4 linked regions of the Homo sapiens genome follow. The protein of the gene in region 3 purifies or fractionates together with the protein of the main gene of each other region. This does not show direct contact. Each region holds a gene or a part of one and is shown on either strand. Other genes may lie near its edges.

Region 1 (3,500 bases), 6.7 Mb from region 3:
TGATATATAACCATTAAACAAATCTTACTGGTCTTTGGCCATCAGAATTACTGGGCTTTGTTCATCTCCCTTGAATCCTAAAAAATGAAAACACTGATAAGCTCAAATTTTTATTAACCTTGGAACAAATGCAATAATTCCTTACAGTCATATAGCATTTTACAATTCTGAAAGAATTTTCACATATACCAATTGAACCCTCACAACAGCCCTGTGAGGTAGGCAGGGTAGGTGTTACTTTCCTACTGCTAGTGAGGAGAACAAGGCTAAGAGGTGAAGTAAGGTCACACAGTTGGTAAATGATGGAGCTAGGACTAGAACCTAGGCCTTCTGACTTGCTGCCTCCCTGAGAACATTCAAGTAATAATATCCTATGCTATATAATGAATATTTATCTCCTATGATGTTGATCAGGTCTATTTTTATACATTTTACCTGTTTTTATATTACCTTTCCCTAATACTGAAAAACACTAAAACTGATACGAGACATTTGAGACATTTCTTCTCTGTTACTGGACTTTCTTAGATATATCAAACACTATCCTAAGATGAAACTTCTGTTTTGAGGATCCTTGGCTATAAATTCTCAATTATGATACGAACATTTATTTTACAAATTCTACAAAAGTATGTTGAACTTAAGAAAAACAAAACAGGTGTGTTTATATTCTCAAAAGCTTTGCCATCTTTCCCAATATGACTTTAATATGTGTATAAATGGAAAACAGGGAAAGGTGTTCAGCAACATTACAGTATTATTGGGAAACCTATGCAGAGTGCACATAAATGCAAGTTACATCACATTAATTTGTTTTCTTTGTTGGCCTTATAGAGGATGAACCATTAGTGTCTTTCAGGTTTGATCCTGTCTTATATGTGACATCCTCAGCAACAAGCTAAAATGATCTGAATTATACCAATAGCGGGGCTCAAGCAGCAGTGATCAAAACATAATATGTATGTGGTAAAAAGGAACACTTGTTCTTCAGTGGTTTTGCCTAGGTCCAGTGTAATTACTTATCAAAACATGTTTTAAGCTACAGCATCTCTGTTAAATTTAGAAATGTGAAACATGGAAGAGTTATCAACTTGGAATACAATACTAAAACTGAATATAACTGACCCAAAACTACCTGTCAAAAGCACAGTAAAGCTTAACAGGCATAAAAACTAAGGGGTAAAACCCAACTGCTCTGACATAAGAGTGAAAAACAGCAAATGCAAACCATCAGGTTAAAGTGAATCACAAAACATTAGGCATGTAGAGCATGTTTTAAAAATAGGAAAATGACACTGAGCTGTATTACCAGGAATAATATTTTTAAAATTCCAGGTATGGCCTTCTACATTTAATAGCAATGGAGAGAAACAAGCCTATGGGGGAGGTGCAGAAAATGAATGGGATCTAGAAAGGGAGTTGAGTTTGGAAGTTAAGGAAGTCAAAGAAACAAATACATCCAAAATGGATTTAGAATCTCTCCTCTAAATCCATCCTTTCCAAAAAATGTTTCCTATATTGAGAGATTTGGTAAAAAAAAAAAAATTAGCTAGTGACAGTAAGTAACTATATTACCTTATAAAATAAAGTAGTATTTAAATGTAGATCAGAAATTATGCTGTCAAAGATAAATCTGCTGACTAGGCTGTAGAATCTGAAACTTAAATGCTACTATCAGTGATAGAAGGCAGAAAAGTGTCTCAAAAACAGAATTGCCATATTAGGACTCAACATTAATGAAACTATTAAGAAACAAGTACTTAACTGTTTGTAATTGAAGCCTACTGAAAAACACATTTGTATGTTTACTAAAGAGATCTAACAGTTTTAACTGACGAAAAATACTGCAGCTACATTTCAGTCTTTTAAGGTAAAACAAGATCTAGAATATTCTAGTTCAGTATACTGGGCTCAAAACCAACTTTCCTTTTGAAATGCATCTAGACTAGACTATATTCCTTACATAATATCATTGTCATCATCATCTTCATGTTTTCTCTTCAGTGGGTTTGCTTCATTGGCTGTGTTCTGTGACGAAACCATGTTGGTGGTAATAAGAATATTTTTGGGCCCAATCATTGAAGGATTAATCAGAACATTTTGAACTGCAGTTGTTGCAGGAACTGTAAACAGAGAAGAAAGCCCCCCCAAAACCAAGCTATGAATTACCCAGAATCTGAAACATATGATAAAAAGTATACAACAAAGCTGAATGTAATTCTAATACCAATTTCAATAGCATGAAGTGCAACTATATCATAGAAGAAACATAGGTACTTATACTGCAATGAGTTGAATTAAATTTTAAAAAATCTTTATTTTTAATTGGCAAATAATAATTGTGTATTTATTTTTAAATTACTATTTTTTTGAGACAGTGTCTCGCTCTGTCGTCCAAGCTGGCGTGATCTTGGCTCACTGCAACCTCCGCCTCCTGAGTTCAAGTGATTCTCGTGCCTCAGGTTCCCAAGTAGCCGGGATTATAGGCGTGTACCACCAAACCTGGCTAATTTTTGTATTTTCAGTAGAGACGGGGTTTCACCACGTTGGCCAGGCTGGTCTCGAACTCCTGGCCTCAAGTGATCCTCCCGCCTCGGTCTCCCAAAGTGCTGGGATTACAGGTGTGAGCCATTGTACCCTGCCAATAATTGTGTATATGTACGGGATATAATGTGATGTTCTGATCTATGTATAGATAAAGATTAAACATATCTAGTACAAGGTTGAAGAAGTTCTGTTGTATTTTAACAACCTAGAATTTCAATTTAGTCATGGGAAACTGCACTGGATTCATCATGCAACATATTAAACAAAGGCCTATGTTCAAGGTCAGGAATCACTTCCCTAATAGGCCAGTATTTTACGTTAGTTGCTTATTGTGTGTGGTTAGGTTTCAGAAGATATGAAATCTAGACATACACATTAGTAAACTGTGCTATGACAGAATTCTTATTCCAATCTGTGTGTGTGTGTGTGTGTGTGTGTGTGTGTGTGTGTGTATCCTATGAAGTAAAGGTACAATTTCATTTGAATTTACATTTATGTTCTGGATTGCATACACATATTCATCACTAAGTTTTGTCGCTTTCTTGAGCTTTTACCTTAACTGCTTTTCCTTGAAGACGACTTAGATTTGTGGACCCTAACTGTTTAGCTGACGGTGTTCTTTGAAAATCTGATGAACACACTGAATACTCTTTCCCTCCTCCCCAAAACGTTACATATATAGTAGTCCCCCCTTATCTGCAGTTTCAGCTACTTGTGGTCAACTGCGATCCAAAAATAGATGAGTACAGTACAGTAAGATACTTTGAGAGATCACACTCACATATATTTTATTACAGTATGTTGTTGTAATTGTTAATTAATTATTGTTAATTTCTTGCCGTGCCTAATTTATAAATTAAACCTTATAATTTAGAAAGTTTATAAATTTAACTTTAAAGGTTGTAAATTTAACTGGGGGTCTTGGAACAATCCCTCAAGGATAAGGGGGGAGA
Region 2 (3,500 bases), on a different chromosome or scaffold from region 3:
ACACAATGCAGCCACTAATAGTGCTGATGCATATGTATATGTGCTGATACAGACAGAAGACATTTACAAGGCAATGCACATGGTATGTGCCACAAATATACACATGTACATTTATATGCAAATGCAGGAAGAATATACAACAAAATGTGCACTGGAATTAACTCTGAGAGGTGGCATTATGGGTGATTTTCACTGTTGTACATCTAGTACTTTCTTTTTTATAGTGAACATATATCATTATGTATTTTGTAAATATTTTAATTAAAAGTAGAAAGTTAAAGAATACACTGTTTATCAGAGGAACTGTTCAGAAAGAATAAGACAGGTAGCCATTTAAAAAATTATGAGTAAACTGATCTCTAGGCAGCTTCTCCTTTCTCAGAATGAGACAAGCGTAGAGCGGGCTGCATCATGGTGCTGAGAGTCCTGTCTTTGAGGATGTGCTAGCCTGGACATTAGGGAAGCAGACCCATGCCCGAACCCTGAGGCTGCACAGCCTGGGTGGCCACCAGGAAGCCCAAACATCTAGAGTTGAGCCACGGAATGCCCTCGGCCCAGCCCTTTTTATTATTGGCCATTTCCTTGGTCTCAGCAACCATGGCCCTGCACAGAATCTCCCCGCCACAGCAACAGCTGTGGAGTTCTGAACATAAGTTCTCAAGACCAGTCAACCTGGGTTCAACCACCTGCTAAGACAGTCTCTCCATCCCTCTGAGCTGCAATTCCCTCATCTGCAACATCAGGATAAGGCCTCATAGCATCATTGTGAATGTTAAGGTGCAACATATGCCGAGAGCCTAGTGGAGTGCTCAACATAGAACAGGTGATCAAGCACGTTCTTCATCTGTGTCTGCCCTCTCTACTCCAAGATCATTCCCCTAACCCCAAAGGCACCTATGCAGCTTTCCCTTTGAATTAAACATAAAAAAGAGATCTCAACCAGCCTCTTCTGAAAGGATGGCCTTTTAAAAAGGCATAGCTTAGAGAGACTTGGCCACAGGCTTTGCTGCTTCTCCCCGGCATTGCAGACACTGCCACCGTGGGCCAGCGTCTCCGCATGGTCCATCTCCAGACACACCCAGCGGGCAGGAGTAGAATACCTGCGGCGCACTTTCCTGGATTTTGAGGCAGCCCAGACCACTCCAAGAAGAGGAAACAACCCTGACGTGGAAGAAGGCATTCCCATAGCTGCAGGCAGCAAACCACACCTCCAGATCTGATAAGACCTCTCTCCAGCACCACCCAGCCCTCCCCAGGCTCACAGCCACTGCGGGTCTCCCTCCAGGCTGCCTCTAAGAAACATTTGGGAGGTAGGTTTCACCAGGGAAAAAGTTACCCGGGTGAAAGTGGACACAAAAAAGGGCCAGAGCCCCAGCTCTGTATCTCTTCAGAGACGGCTGGAGCCACTTGGCCAGAGGGTTACAACTGTGGCCACAGAGCAGAAGCAGAGAAACGCCACACTTTGAGACAGTGGCTGGGTGGGAAAGCAAAACCAGGTTTCAGTCTCAGTTCTGCCAGGGACCTGTGACTTGGGAGAAGTCCCCAAGACTCTGGGAATATTTCCCAGAAAACCAGGAGGTGGCTCACACTTGTAATCCCAGCACTTTGGGAGGCCAAGGTGGGTAGATCACTTGAGGCCAGGAGTTCGAGACCAGCCTGGCCAACACGGCAAAACCCTATCTCTACTAAAAACACGAAAATTAGCTGGACATAGTGGGGCATGCCTGTAATCCCAGCTACTCAGAAGCTAAGGCAGGAGAATTGCTTGAACCTGGGAGGCTGAGATTGCAGTGATCCGAGATCATGCCACTGTACTCCAGCCTGGGCGACAGAGTGGGACTCTGACTAAAAGAAAAACAAAAACAAAAACAAAAAACAAAACAAAACAAAAAAACCAGGAGGTTGGATGGGCCAAGGGTTCAGTGGGGTTCCCAATGCAGGGTCCTGCAAGCTGTGCTACTAAAGTCATTACTGTGCCCTGCCTGGCTCCTTCACTAGACTAGAACTGTCCCTAGACCCCAAAGACTGGGAGAACAGCCCACCTACTTCAGAGCCCTTGCTAGGTGGCTGCCAGCCAGGTAAGCACATCAACAGTAACTAAAGGTCTGTCCAGGGAACGTGCCTCAACACACCCTAAGGACCCAATCTGCAGGAATGCCACCCCTCCCCTCTCCCAGCAGTTCCATCATCAGATGCTCCTGGGAGGCATAGGGAGAGCTCAGGTCCCCCACACGGTGGGACTCTGACCTCTGCCACGGCAGAGCTGTGTGAGGGCCAGGCCTCTCTGACCTTCCAGATGGCAGGAGGGCCTCCCCTCTGACCCCCTGCGGCTCCAGGGCAACTGCTCAGGAAAGCAGCCCAAGGGCAGAGACTGTACCTACCACAGTTCCCAACATCGCCTCCCAGCACAGCCTGACTCTGCACCTACCACAGTTGCCAACATCACCTCCCCCAGCAAAGCCTGATGGTCAAAGTCCTTCAGCCCCTTTCTCCACGCCAGCTTGCTTAGGAGGGATTTTTCTCCACAAGAACACAAGGTGGGGAGACTCAGCATGGCAGAGCCTGTCTCTGGAAAGTACTAGTAGGCTGGCAGGAAAGGGCAAGTCACAATGTCCCTGGAACATAAATCTCCATGAGGCAACATGTGTCTGCTTCTACACACCCTTGTCTCCCCAGCGCTGGGCAGATTCAAAGGAATGAAGGTAATTATTACTGGCATAGGTTGCAGGCCCAGCTATTAGGCAGGCCAAGTGTCCCTCTGTGAGTACACTGGGGCATAAGAACATTCCCGTTTGCCTCGGTGGAGTTTTCAGACCCCTAGGAGGGTCTAGCGGAGACAGAACACCAGCTCCTGCCAGGATGAAGTAGCCTCACAACTTCTGTTTACAGATTAATACCCTGGTTTCAAATTGTGCCTCCCTCCCTTTATATTTAGAGAGGGAAAATGTGTATGATGAAAACTGCTGATCTCCAGGAACGTGTGTGAGTTTGAGAAGAGTCAGGCACGCTGCTAGGCACACAGGCAGCAAACGTTAAGTCTCAGCTCCTTCTACCCTTTTCCATCCAAACTGGACCACCACACAGAGAAAAGCTATCCCCGGACAACCAGACACGCTGACCCACTACACCCCATCACAACCCAATTTCAGGCAGCAGCAGCCCATCCCTGGTCAGGGACCTCCACGGACATTTCACGTGCTGCTTCTCCCACTGAGTGTTTATTTAATGAAGGCCAGAGTGAGCTGGGGCTCCTCAGATTCTAGATAAGTCCGATGCAGTTGCACAGGCCAAGCCCTCCAGGTCAGATCCTTCTTCAAAAGCCAGGAATCCAGTGTTGCAAGCACAGTCTCTGGGGCCACGGCCTGGTGTGTGGGGAGCCCACAGAACAGGAAAGAACGCTGGAGTGGACACTGCCACTTGCCTGCCTGGCCCCAACACATGCTGCTGGCGGTGGACGGTCCCACCCAGCTTGCTGAGATTGTTTCCTGGCTTGTGTCACC
Region 3 (3,500 bases):
TATAGTACTTGGTACATTATGAAGTGATTTTCATATGTAATCTTCATAGCAGTCCTGTGAGGTATAGGCATTTTTAAGTATCTCTGTTTTGTAGATGAGGAAAACTAAACTTAGACATGTTAAATAGCTTAAATAGACATGTTAAATCATAGAGGTAATGGCAGAGCTAGCATCATCTGAATTCACATCCTGTATTTTCTCCCCTACTGACTCTGAAAGATAGTGGATGAAAAATTGTTTAGTCACATTTGATAATCTATATTTTAATTTATTTGTATTACTGGATAGACCTTAGATGGCGTAATTAAGATGGAGAGCAATAAGCTTGGTATTTCTTTCTCAGCAGTTGACTGAATTTCCTAGGGCTACTCTGTATATAATTTTTGTGTTTTTACTTTTGTTAGGCATTTGAGAACAACCTTTTTCGTGCTCCAATTTATCTTCATAAGATGCCAGAAACTGATTTCTTGATCATTCGGACAAGACAGGGTTACTATATTCGGGAATTAGTGGATATTTTTGTGGTTGGCCAGCAGTGTCCCTTGTTTGAAGTTCCTGGGCCTAACTCCAAAAGGGCCAATACGCATATTCGAGACTTTCTACAGGTAAGAATGGGAGGATAGGGAGGGGATTGGGTTGTATACAGAAAGGGTATGTTGGGGCCGGGCATGGCGGCTCATGGCTGTAATCCCAGCACTTTGGGAGGCCGCGGTGAATGGATCACTTGAGGTCAGGAGTTCGAGACCAGCCTGACCATCATGGTGAAACCCTGTCTCTACTAAAAATACAAAAATTAGCTGGGCGTGGTGGCTCACGCCTGTGATCCCAGCACTTTGGAAGGCCGAGGTGGGCGGATCACCTGAGGTTGGGAGTTTGAGACCAGCCTGACCAACATGGAGAAACCCCGTCTCTACTAAAAATACAAAATTAGCCAGGCGTGGTGGCACATGCCTGTAATCCCAGCTACTCAGGAGGCTGAGGCAGGAGAATCGCTTGAACCTAGGAGGCGGAGGTTGCAGTGAGCCGAGATCGCACCACTGCACTCCAGCCTGGGCAACAAGAGTGAAACTCAGTCTCAAAAAAAAAAAAAAAATTTAGCCAGGCATGGTGGCGCACGCCTATGGTCCCAGCTACTCTGGAGGCTGAGGCAGGAAAATCACTGGAGCCCGGGAGGCAGAGGTTGCAGTGAGCTGAGATCAAGGCACTGCACTCTACTCTGGGTGACAGAGCGAGACTCCGTCTCAGAAAAAGTAGGCTGTGTGGGTTTGGGAGCACATCGGGAAAGATGAAAATACATTAGAGCTTAGCAAAGGAAGAGGCCCTAGTGAGGACTTTTATCCTTTTCTTTGCCAAATAAAATACACTTGGTTTGTTGGGCAGGTTTTTATTTACCGCCTTTTCTGGAAAAGTAAAGATCGGCCACGGAGGATACGAATGGAAGATATAAAAAAAGCCTTTCCTTCCCATTCAGAAAGCAGCATCCGGAAGAGGCTAAAGCTCTGCGCTGACTTCAAACGCACAGGTCGTCTGTTGTGACTAGTTATTTGTCTGCCTTTTTCCAAGAAAAGAATTTTGATGGCTTTGAGTTAAAGGATAAGCATATAGTTAATAAAATAGAAATTGATGGCTGTTGAAAGGAGGTAGCAGATCTTCTAACACTCTGGTTGCTTTTTTGAATTTGGCTGCCAGGAAGTTTAATGTGATTGTTGGATATCTTCTATGAGTTGTAGGAAACTTAGCAGCTGGGGTTTTCTTGGCCAGTCATGCCAACTGTGGCTAGGCCTGTTACAGTTTTGGTTTGCTGTCCCTGTTGCTGTCAATAAATATCAGGGCCTTTGGAATTCAGAATGGTCTCATTCTCTATGTATATGTCTTTTCCAGGGATGGACTCAAACTGGTGGGTGCTTAAGTCTGATTTTCGTTTACCAACGGAAGAAGAGATCAGAGCTATGGTGTCACCAGAGCAGTGCTGTGCTTATTATAGCATGATAGCTGCAGAGCAACGACTGAAGGTGAACACCTTCCTCTTAGACACCACTTATGCCTGTGGTTTTTTGTTTTTTTTTTTCTTCCCCCCAGAGAGATGAGAGAGAAGATTCTTTCTCTGACTGGCTTAGGGAGGATGGTTTACTAGATTATTACCAATTACTAAAAAGTTCAATTTGTATAAAGTACTTCTACGTACATCAGTTCTGGAGAAAAACTATAGTGTAGCTAAGTATCAGTGGGAAGGCATAATGAGGAACTTTGGGCATATTGTTTTGCTTTGAAAATGGTGACTGGGTGACTTTAATCTCTTCTTTGCAAGATAAGCATATAAGCAGGGAAAGTACTTGTCAGCCTCTCAGGTAGGCAGAGATGATGATGGTGCTGAATGTGTGGTTTAGAGAAGCACAGAATTCTTATAAGGCCAAAAGAGAAAAGGTCCAGCTGAGGTGTGACAGCACAGCTCTGTCCCACTGAGTTAATGAGACTCAGTTATTGAGCATCTCTGTTCAGCTTGCTTATGGGCTGTAACTATCTGTATATCAGCTAGTAAGCTCCTTGGCATGTTGTAATGTATCTTATAGCTTAAGGATGTGCCGTGGTGTTAGATATAGTGAAGACTTTATGGAATCCATCTATGCAAAATAGACTTTGGTATTCTGTACTTGTATTCAGTAAAAAAAAAACTTGTGCTTTGTGTTTTTTAACTGACTGATTTATGCATGGATCTGTCCTCTTCCAGGATGCTGGCTATGGTGAGAAATCCTTTTTTGCTCCAGAAGAAGAAAATGAGGAAGATTTCCAGATGAAGATTGATGATGAAGTAAGGCTTTATACTAGTTTGTATTAGTCATTAATACATCTCATTTATCCTTTTAAAAGAGACAGCTTTATTGAGATAACATAAAATAAACTGTACACATTTAAAGTATACTGTTAGATGTTCTTGCTTTATTCATGCCAGAAAAAATGATGCGATATATCAAATATTATATTTTATATGATATGGGTTTGTTTTTTTTTGTTTGTTTTGTTTTTTGACAGAATCTTGCTCTGTCACCCAGGCTGGAGTGCAGTGGTGGCATGACCTCGACTCACTGCAACCTTCACCTACCGGGGTTCCTGCAATTCTCGCGATTCTCCTGCCTCAGCCTCCCGAGTAGCTGAAATTACAGTTGCACGCCACCATGCCCAGCTAATTTTTTGTATTTTTAGTAGAGATGGTGTTTCACCATGTTGGCCAGACTGGTCTTGAGCTCCTGACCTCAAGTGATCCTCGTGCCTTGGCCTCCCAAAGGGCTGGGATTACAGGCATGAGTCACTGCACCTGGCAGGATTTTCATTTCTTCTAGAAAAAAGACTTTGACCTGATTTATAAGACTTCACATGATTTGGGCCTTGCATATTAATCTGACCTCCTTTCATCTCCTGTCACTGCCTGTCTTATATTCTAAGCTCCAACCATACCGAAGTTCATTCAGTTTCCTAAATTTCTCTTCCCTTTCAGAATTTTT
Region 4 (2,909 bases), on a different chromosome or scaffold from region 3:
TAGTGAACAACAAGGCCCACATGGTGACCCTGGACTATACGGTGCAGGTGCCGGGGGCTGGCCAGGATGGCTCTCCTGGCTTGAGGTACCACTTGGCTTAGTGGGGGTGAGGCGGTAGTTGGGGGAGCTGAGGTCACCAGTCCTCATGGTTGCTGGGGCCTCTGTTACAGTAAGTTCCGGCTCTCCTACTACCCACACTGTCTGGCATCCTTCACGGAGCTGCTCCAAGCAGCCTTCGGAGGTAAGTGCCAGCACAGCGTCCTGGGCGACTTCAAGCCTTACAAGCCAGGCCAAACCTACATTCCCTGCTACTTCATCCACGTGCTCAAGAGGACAGACTGAGTGTGGCCTCAGCTCCCACAAGCCTCTGCCCAGGCACTGCTAGGCTCTGTCTGGAAGATGGGGACCAGCAGCCCCACACCAGGGCCAGCCTCTAGAGCAGACTACAGCTGGGGTGCAGGGATGTGGGTTCCACAGACGGAAGGGTAAACAATATAGTCTTTTTCAGTTCCTGCATGCATTGTGTTTATTTATGTCAGAAGGATCAGGCTCCCATGCTGCCCACCCCCCCACCCTCTCCCAGGGCTTACTCCTCCCACAACCCTGCTCTTTCTCACTCCAACCTTTCATGCCACAACACCAGTAGGGGGCGGGACATGCTTTATTTTCAGCCACAGAACTAGCCCTCTCAGGGCCCAATCCCCAGAACCCAAGGCCCTGGCCCTCTTCCTGAGTAGATGGGCCTTTCTCTTAGAGCCGGCCTGGAAGGAGGGGCAAGTAGGCAGGAGATATCTCTTGAGCTGTTGCTGCTGTCTCAATGCCACTTTGCACCCTGGGATCTCCTGGAGGGAGGTGGCCTCCAGGTGGGTTGGCAGCAGCCTGAGGAGGAGCCCTTCCTTCCCAGATCTCTCTGTGGGCTATCAAGGTACCTGCAGCCATGCTGAGCGGGGTCCCAGACCCTGGGGGGCTCCTAGCAGGCAGCAAACTTGCGCTGGATGCGCTTGTACCGGAGCAGCTCCTGCTCACTGACTGAGGGTTGCAGCCGGGCGGCAGCCTGCAGCAAGTCCTCCATGGTGAGCATCAGTGCTGAGCTACCTGGCTCCAGCCCTGGAGATGACAAGGTGGGGAGGCTGTGGTCTATGCCCAGGCAGGGGAGAGCCCTGCGAAGGTGGCTTCCTGCTCAGGGTCTCCTAGATGTCAATGATCTTCCCTCTGGAATCCAGGACTAGGTTTGTCTCCCACTAGTTTTTTTTTTCCCTTAAACATTTTTTTTAGAGTTGGGGTCTCTCTGTGTTGCCCAGGCTGGCCTCAAACTCCTGGGCTCAAGCGATCCTCCCACCTCAGCCTCTCAAGTAGCTGGGACTCAGGTGCACCCAGCTCCCCACTAGCTTTTTGGTTGACCTCTCAGACCGGCAAGTGGCTCACCTTCCTCCAGGTCATGAACCCTGCGTTTGAGGGCAGCTGTCATAGCATCAGAGCAGAGAGAGTAGAGGTCCGCGCCCGTCAGCTGGGGAGGGCAGCAATCTAGCACGTTTACCAGGCTCACAGATGGCTCTAGCTTGAATCTGTTGTGGGATACAGGAAGAAACAGAGTTGGCATCACCTCCTCCCTCGAAAGCCAGTGCTGACCAGCTCATCCTGCATGTTGCATGCATCCCCTAAGCATCCCAAGGCCCAAGCCCTTCGCAGTCTTCCTCTAACAGAGCATACTTGCGTGTGATGGCACTTAGAACGCGTAGCTGGGAGGCCCGGTCCTCATTTGCCCCCACAAACACCAGCTTGTCAAATCTTTAGGGAGATAGGCAGGTATAAGTTTCAGGGAGCCCAGCCATGAGGGGTGAAGGAGGCACAAAATGAGGGTGGAGATGAGCAGTACAAGGGGCCCACCTGCCAGGCCGCAGAAGGGCAGGGTCCAGGAGATCTGGTCTGTTGGTGGCTCCAATCACAAACACATCCTGAGTGCTGTGCAGCCCATCTAGCTCGGCAAGGAGCTGAGACACCACCCTGGAGAGAAGGGAGCAAGGGCAAGAGTCCTTGGTGTCCCCCTTAGACTCTGCCCCTGCCTGTGGTACCTCTCTTTACAGGCAGTCTCAACAGGGCCCTCCACTCAGCTGTGCCCAATGTGCCCCACCAGGTAGGCCCCCATTCTCCTCAGTGGACCCTGCCCAATTTCATGGCCCCTTTCAGCTTCCATTATATTATCTCAGAACTGAAACAGCAGGAACTTCTATCTCTGGACTCTGAAGACTGCTGTGAGCTTTCTCATATCCTTCCCACCCTGGACCCCTCAGCTTTCATTCCCACTCAGACCCCTACCTGTCCATCACTCCTCCAGAATCTCCACTTCGCCCCCGGCTTGGGGCCAAAGAGTCCAGTTCATCAAAGAAGATAATGCATGGAGCTGCAGCCCTGGCCCTGGCAAACACTGAAGAGAGAGAGGGGCCCACAGGAGGGCAAAGCTCGGCTTGTGGGGGGTTGAAGTTAGGTGAGAGCAGGGAGGGAAACTGGGGCCTGACAATACAGCACTGGCATCCCAGGTACTAGACCCAGCTGGGCAGGAACCTGACTTGTAGAAAGGAGGATTAGGAATGATCATGAGTAGCCTGGGAGTAGGGGGTGGCTTGGGGGCCATCGGGGTTTGGGAAGCATGGGACGCCCTGCCCCTCCCTGCTCACTCACCTTCCCGCACATTCTCCTCACTTTGGCCCACATACATGTTAATGAGCTCTGGCCCCTTCACGCTGAGTGAGAGGATGTGAGAAGGTGAGAGCCGTCAGATGCACATACACACAATTGACCTCTTGGGCAGCCCCTCCTGCTCCCCAGCCTGCTGCAGCCCCTGATCCACCCACCATCCCTTCCAGGCCCCCTGGCCACCTGAGGAAGGTAAGGCTGCACTCAGTGGCTAC

What was found. The genes of interacting proteins can lie anywhere in the genome.
Region 1: the proteins of TAF1 (region 3) and TAF9B purify together in Homo sapiens (affinity purification with western blotting; 4 studies listed by BioGRID and IntAct, with this or other methods). This does not show direct contact.
Region 2: the proteins of TAF1 (region 3) and KSR1 purify together in Homo sapiens (affinity purification with mass spectrometry, with the first as the bait; one large-scale study listed by BioGRID). This does not show direct contact.
Region 4: the proteins of TAF1 (region 3) and PEX6 purify together in Homo sapiens (affinity purification with mass spectrometry, with the first as the bait; one large-scale study listed by BioGRID). This does not show direct contact.

What each region holds. Positions count from the first base shown.
Region 1 is NC_000023.11:78,129,651-78,133,150, forward strand, and holds the end of TAF9B (transcription initiation factor TFIID subunit 9B), read right to left. Parts: intron 2,124-3,500; coding exon 1,960-2,123; 3' UTR 98-1,959; downstream 1-97. UniProt on the Homo sapiens protein: Essential for cell viability. TAF9 and TAF9B are involved in transcriptional activation as well as repression of distinct but overlapping sets of genes. May have a role in gene regulation associated with apoptosis.
Region 2 is NC_000017.11:27,459,448-27,462,947, reverse strand, and holds part of KSR1 (kinase suppressor of Ras 1), read right to left. Parts: intron 1-3,500.
Region 3 is NC_000023.11:71,386,857-71,390,356, forward strand, and holds part of TAF1 (transcription initiation factor TFIID subunit 1), read left to right. Parts: intron 1-404; coding exon 405-605; intron 606-1,380; coding exon 1,381-1,522; intron 1,523-1,881; coding exon 1,882-2,012; intron 2,013-2,728; coding exon 2,729-2,809; intron 2,810-3,500. UniProt on the Homo sapiens protein: The TFIID basal transcription factor complex plays a major role in the initiation of RNA polymerase II (Pol II)-dependent transcription.
Region 4 is NC_000006.12:42,963,365-42,966,273, forward strand, and holds the end of PEX6 (peroxisome biogenesis factor 6), read right to left. Parts: coding exon 2,878-2,909; intron 2,742-2,877; coding exon 2,680-2,741; intron 2,426-2,679; coding exon 2,317-2,425; intron 2,005-2,316; coding exon 1,888-2,004; intron 1,789-1,887; coding exon 1,711-1,788; intron 1,566-1,710; coding exon 1,426-1,565; intron 1,108-1,425; coding exon 971-1,107; 3' UTR 501-970; downstream 1-500. Other genes in the region: CNPY3-GNMT (Glycine N-methyltransferase-like isoform 1 precursor), read left to right, coding at 1-85, 171-342; GNMT (glycine N-methyltransferase), read left to right, coding at 1-85, 171-342. UniProt on the Homo sapiens protein: Component of the PEX1-PEX6 AAA ATPase complex, a protein dislocase complex that mediates the ATP-dependent extraction of the PEX5 receptor from peroxisomal membranes, an essential step for PEX5 recycling.